2 separate regions of the Homo sapiens genome follow, and region 2 is linked to region 1. Evidence: fine-mapped QTL for protein levels in blood plasma. A gene starts in region 1. The other region holds a variant in brackets. All regions are shown on one strand. Distances are from middle to middle.

Region 1 (2,914 bases):
TATGCATTAGTTCTATTTGGAGAAAGTAGAAAAGGTTTTGAGACAGACATTTATGAAAGTGTTTTTCATTTTGTTTTGTTTTGTTGTTTGTTTGTTTTTTGAGTGGGTCCCAGTAAGGCATCCAAAATAACCAAAGAAAACCCAAAATGACTGGCTGGGTGCTGTGGCTCACGCCTGTAATCCCAGCACTTTGGGAGGCTGAGGTGGGCAGATCACCTGAGGCCAGGAGTTTGAGACTAGCCTGGCCAACATAGTGGAACCCTGTCTCTACTAAAAATACAAAAATTAGCCAGGCGTGGTGGTGTGTGCCTGTTGTCCCAGCTACTCAGGAGCCTGAGGTGGGAGAATCGTTTGAACTCAGGAGGCAGAGGTTGCAGTGAGCCAAGATCATGCCATTGCACTCCAGCCTGGGTGACAGTGAGACTCCGTCTCAAAAATAAATAAGTAAATAAATAAAATAAAATAAAAATAATAAAATAAAATAAAATAAAAATTTTAAAAAGGAAACCAAAAATGACTTCACTATGCCATCCCATTTAGCCTCTTTAATCTCCTCCAATGGAAACAGCAGAACAAAATGTTCCATATCACTGAAGCAGAGCGAACTCACCTACAATTGAAAACATTAACCTGAGCTTCCTTTAATGGGCATTAAAATGTGTGAATATGGATATCCATTCAGAAAAGTCAAACATTTACAAAGGAAAAGGAGAGTCTGCAATAAATGGAATTTTGGTCATCTGTTTCATCTCTAATAAATATGAAATGAACAAATGCTACACGTGCAGACTGATCCCTAAATCCTAAATTCTGCTCTGTAAGAGTTATTAGAAATCTGAAACCACAAGCAACTTTCTGAAGACATTTAAAGAAGCATTAAAGTGTGACTTTGGGGTCAGGGTCGATATTTAGGAGTACTTCTTTCTTAGATATACATATAGATATATTTATTTATTCGTTTACTGCTAGGCAATGGAAAAGGCACAGAGTAAAGAGAAAGAAGCCACTAGTTAGCAAAAGATCAACTGCTTTCTTCACACTGAACTCCTCTTAACTACTCTGACCCACAAAAGTGAATCAAAAAAATCTGTTTAACTTTCCAAGAAAGGAGGGATAACTGTTAAGTCCTTTCAACTTTCCAAAGTAGCAGCAGCTTCACTCCTGAAAGCAGATTAAAGTTGCCATCTAAACTCACATGCTTTCCCGCAAAGAGCCCAGGCCAAGGAACTTCCTTTTTCACCTTGCAGCTGTAGAGATTTGCTGCTTGCTCATCTATAACTTCAAAGACAAGAACAAGAAAACAACCAATCATACTACAAAATTATTTCAAACTTCACCACATCTCACAGGCAGGAAGGTTCTTTCAGATCCACAGTGAAAATAGGAAATGTTTCATCAGCTGAAAGGCAGCTGCAAGCAGATCAAGAGAGGTTTTACAAAAGAAGCAAAAGGTAAAGGGTTATCCTTTATTTTACAAAGGAGCTCTCTAGCAACCCAGTTCATATAAAAGTTAAACTTAGAGAAGAAAATAGAATCTCTATAGGCGGCAGAAGAAAAGAAAATTGTTTCCTCCTATTTACGGTGCAAGTGACTGTGCCTCTATTAGCCCCTCTAAGGGTCGCCAAAGCAGAGCGTCTTTCCTGTCCGTGGATAGCAGAGGCAAGGCGTGTTGCTCTGAGATTTTTTAAAGATCCCAGGATCTCCCAGAGCTGGCTTCCCCACCTCATCTCTTTGCTTTCAGCCAAGCAAACGTCATGCCTTCATACTCATTCTGGTTGCCAGAAGTCTTGTGGTCTGTTCTTCCCATATTTCTCCCAATTCTTTAGAATTGGAATTGATGTTGACATTGAGGTTACAAGGGATTGGAAGGGAAGTGGTTGCATCAAGGATACTCCAAGGGCAGAGTTTAATGAAAATTTAATTCAGAATGGATCCCAAGAGACGGAATAAAACAGTCTAATTGAGTTAACCTAGAAAAACAAGTCCTGCCAAAGAAGGGTCTAATTCAGCTTGTTTCAGAAATTCCGGGTGAGTTAAGGAGTAGTTGGTGGAGAAGCTAAACTCTTGATGGGCAGATTGCTGAGGCCCAGCCCACCTTATTAGTAAAATCTCTTTGGGACCTTTTTTTGCAGGAATATTGGTCTCATAATTTTCAGATTTCAGTCAAAGGGCTGTACTTACACAGACTCAAAAACTATGACGCTGCAGTTCTTTTCTTCTCCTTACTTAGTTGGTTTTCCTTGGATCAACTAGAATTTACAAGGTTATGTGAAAGCTGATCACACAAACTGGGTCATTCTTGTCATACCCAACTAAATCAGAGTCTAGGGACCAGGAGGGAAGAAGCACTTGGGGCACAGCACCTGCTCCATGAATTAAATTTTTCACAAGCCCAGCTGCTAAAATGGCCTGCTGTAACCCCAAGACTAGTTTAGTAGCTGCTGAAACATGACTTTAAGAATAGTTTTGCCTACCACCATCACTCACCAATCAGAGTTTGCCAGCTCCCAAATGCTTCTTTTTTCTCTTTTTTTCCCTTCTTTCCAAATGATTCTTTAGTGCCAATGAGCTTTCTTTCAAAACAGTATAGAACATTTCTCTAATAAAACTCCCAACCTTCTTTCTGTTCCTCAGACACACTGAAGACCACCTGGTTAGTGTGTATGCCTCAAACTGCAATCCTTGCTTCCAAAATAGAATGCTTTAAAGTTAGAGATTCATCGCTATGTTTTATTTTGACTTCAACAGTCACAATGTATTGCTTCCTGGATAATGTGGAGCTTAGAGGCTCTGCAGAAGAAAGTAGGTTAATATGGGGCCCTGCAATAAACATTGTCTGTTTTCGTGGTGATGGGTGCAGAAGAGTGGGATAGGGGATGGCACACCCCTACATTATCCTTATTTCTAGGAACCA
Region 2 (2,914 bases), 270 kb after region 1:
ATATATATTTCTTTTTTAATATATATGGCATAAGGAAAAAATATATATAATTATACACAGTCCTTATGTGCTCTCTCTCTCTCCCTCCCTCCCTCTCTCTCTCTCTACATATATATATATATATATATATATACGTGTATATATATACACATATATACACACACACACACACACACATATATATATATATATATATATATATAAATAGTCATACATCACTTAACCGTGAGGATAAATATTGAGAAATGCTTCATTAGGTTATTTCATCCTTGTGCAAAGAACATCATAGAGTGCACTTATGCAAACCTAGATGGTATAACCCACTACACACCCTATTGCTATACCATAGACATATATATGGTATAGCCTATTGCTTCTAGGCTACAAGCCTATACAGCATGTTACCATACTGAATACTATGGGCAATTATAACACAATGGGAAGTGTGTGTGTAATTAAACATATCTAAGTTGGCTGGGCACAGTGTCTCACGCCTGTAATCCCAGCACTTTAGGAGCCTGAGGCAGGTGGATCGCCTGAGTCAGGAGTTCAAGACCAGCCTGGCCAACATGGCGAAACACCATCTCTACTAAAAATACAAAAATTAGTCAGGTGTGGTGGCACGCACCTGTAATCCCAGCTACTCGGAAGGCTGAGGCAAGAGAATCACTTGAACCCAGGAAGCGGAGGTTGCAGTGAGCCGAGATTGCGCCACTGCACTCCAGCCTGGGCGACAGAGCAAGACCCTGTCTCCCAGATAAATAAATAATAAATAAACATATCTAAGCATAGAAAAGGTACAGTAAAAATATGGTATAAAAGATACAATTGTACACCTCTATAGGGCATTTACCATGAATGGAGCTTGCAAGACTGAAGTTGCTCTAAGTGCATCAGTGGGTGAGTGGTGACTGAATGTGAAGGCCTAGGACATTACTGTACACTACTGTCGACTTCATAAACACTGGACACTAAGGCTGCACTAAATGTATGAAAAGTATCTTTTTTCTTAAAAAATAAATTTAGTTCACTGTAACTTTTTTACTTTATAAACTTAAAAAATTTTAAAAACCTATTGACTGTTTTGTAATACATAGCTTAAAACACAAACAAATTGTACAGCTCCACAAAACTATTTTCCTTCTTTATATGCTTATTCTATAAGCTTTTTTGATTCTGAAGGTTTTTGTTTTTATTTTTTAAACTTTTAAATTAAAAACTAGGACACAAACACACACATTGGCCTAGGCCCACACAGGATCAGGATCATCAATATCATCATATTCCAGGTCCACCCACATCTCATGCCACTGGAAGGTCTTCGGCGGCAATACATACATGGAGCTGTCAACTCCTATGATAACAATGCCTTCTTCAGGAATACCTCCTGAAGGACCTGCTTGAGGATGTTTTACAGTTAACTTTAAAAATGTAAATAAGAAGGCTGGGTGTGGTGGCTCACAGCTGTAATCTTAGCACATTGGGAGGCTGAAGTAGGAGGATCCCTTGAGGCCAGTTCAAGAGCAGCCTGGGCAAGAAAGCAAGACTCTCATCTCTACAAAAAAGTGAAAAAAGAAGGCCAGGCGCAGTGGCTCACGCCTGTAATCCCAGTACTTTGGGAGGCCGAGGTGGGCGGGTCACCTGAGGTCGGGAGTTCGAGACCAGCTTGACCAACATAGAGGAACCCCGTCTCTACTAAAAATACAAAATTAGCTGGGCGTGGTGGCTCATGCCTGTAATCCCAGCTACTCGGGAGGCTGAGGCAGGAGAATCGCTTGAACCCGGGATTCGGAGGTTGCGGTGAGCCAAGATCATGCCATTGCACTCCAGCCTGGGCAACAAGAGTGAAACTCTGTCTCAAAAAAAAAAAAAAAAAA[AG/G]AAAAGAAACAATAAAACAAATAAATAAATAAGAAAAGAAAAAGAATGAGAGAGGACTACCGCTATCAAAGATACAATCTTTATAAATAATAATTAAAGCAGTATAGTGTTGTTGTATGAATAGATAGACAACTAGCCGGATAGACTAGAAAGCCTAGAATACATCCAAAATACACACAGGAATTAAGTATATGATAATAGTCGCATCTTACACCAGAGGAGATAAGATAGACTGTTTCAAGAGAGTTGACGGGAAAACTGGGTACCCATATGATAGAAAGCAACAACAGCAACAAGTTAGATCTATTCCTCTCTCTCTTCACCAGGTAATTTTTTTTCTTTTTTGGTCTCTAATTCCTGGTGATAAGATAGGGGAATTTTTAAAAGATAGACAGGACTCTGGTGATGCTGCCTGGCTAGATTCCAACTCCTGGGTTTAAGCAATTCTCTCGACTCAGCCTCCTTAGTAGCTGAAACTACAGGTACATGCCACCACATACAGCTCAGGATAATTTCTACAAGGATCAAAGATTCAAATAAAAAAGTAAAGATGTTGGCCGGGCACAGTGGCTCACATCTGTAATCCCCGCACCTCGGGAGGCCGAGGCGGACGGATCACCTGAGGTCAGGAGTTCGAGACCAGCCTGGTCAACATGGTGAAACCCCGTCTCTACCAAAAATATAAAAATTAGCCAGGCGTGGTGGCACGCGCCTGTAGCCCCAGCTACTCGGGAGGCTGAGGCAGGAGAATCGCTTGAACTCGGGAGCTGGAGGTTGCAGTGAGCCGAGATCACGCCACTGCATTCCAGCCTTGGCAACAGAGCAAGACTCTGTCTAAAAAAAAAAAAAAAAAAAAGTAAAGACACTAAAAGAAAACATAGGAAAATTCCTTTATTTTGAGGGCATGGAAAAGGCCTACCTAATTATGACTCAAAACTCAGATAAATTTCACTTTTTTTAAACTATCAGATTAGCAAGACCCTAACATGTTATCTGTCGGCAGAGAGTCAGTGGAGGGGGCATGGCAGTCTCAGGA

Evidence for each region. PIP is the posterior inclusion probability: the model's chance that the variant is causal. Protein levels are from the aptamer-based SomaScan assay of Sun 2018.
Region 2: its variant is fine-mapped to the plasma level of the ASIP protein (Sun 2018, PIP 0.95).

What each region holds. Positions count from the first base shown.
Region 1 is chr20:34,239,771-34,242,684 of GRCh38, reverse strand. It overlaps ASIP (agouti signaling protein), which reads right to left and starts at 1,262. Exons shown (of 4, transcript NM_001672.3): 1 at 1,196-1,262. It also overlaps a transcript of AHCY not described here. RefSeq lists enhancers at 1-170, 1,224-1,373, 1,394-1,463.
Region 2 is chr20:33,973,234-33,976,147 of GRCh38, reverse strand. No RefSeq gene overlaps it. Among named protein-coding and RNA genes, the nearest start is that of RALY, 19 kb to the left of the region's middle. The variant AG/G (reference allele first, on the strand shown) is at 1,878.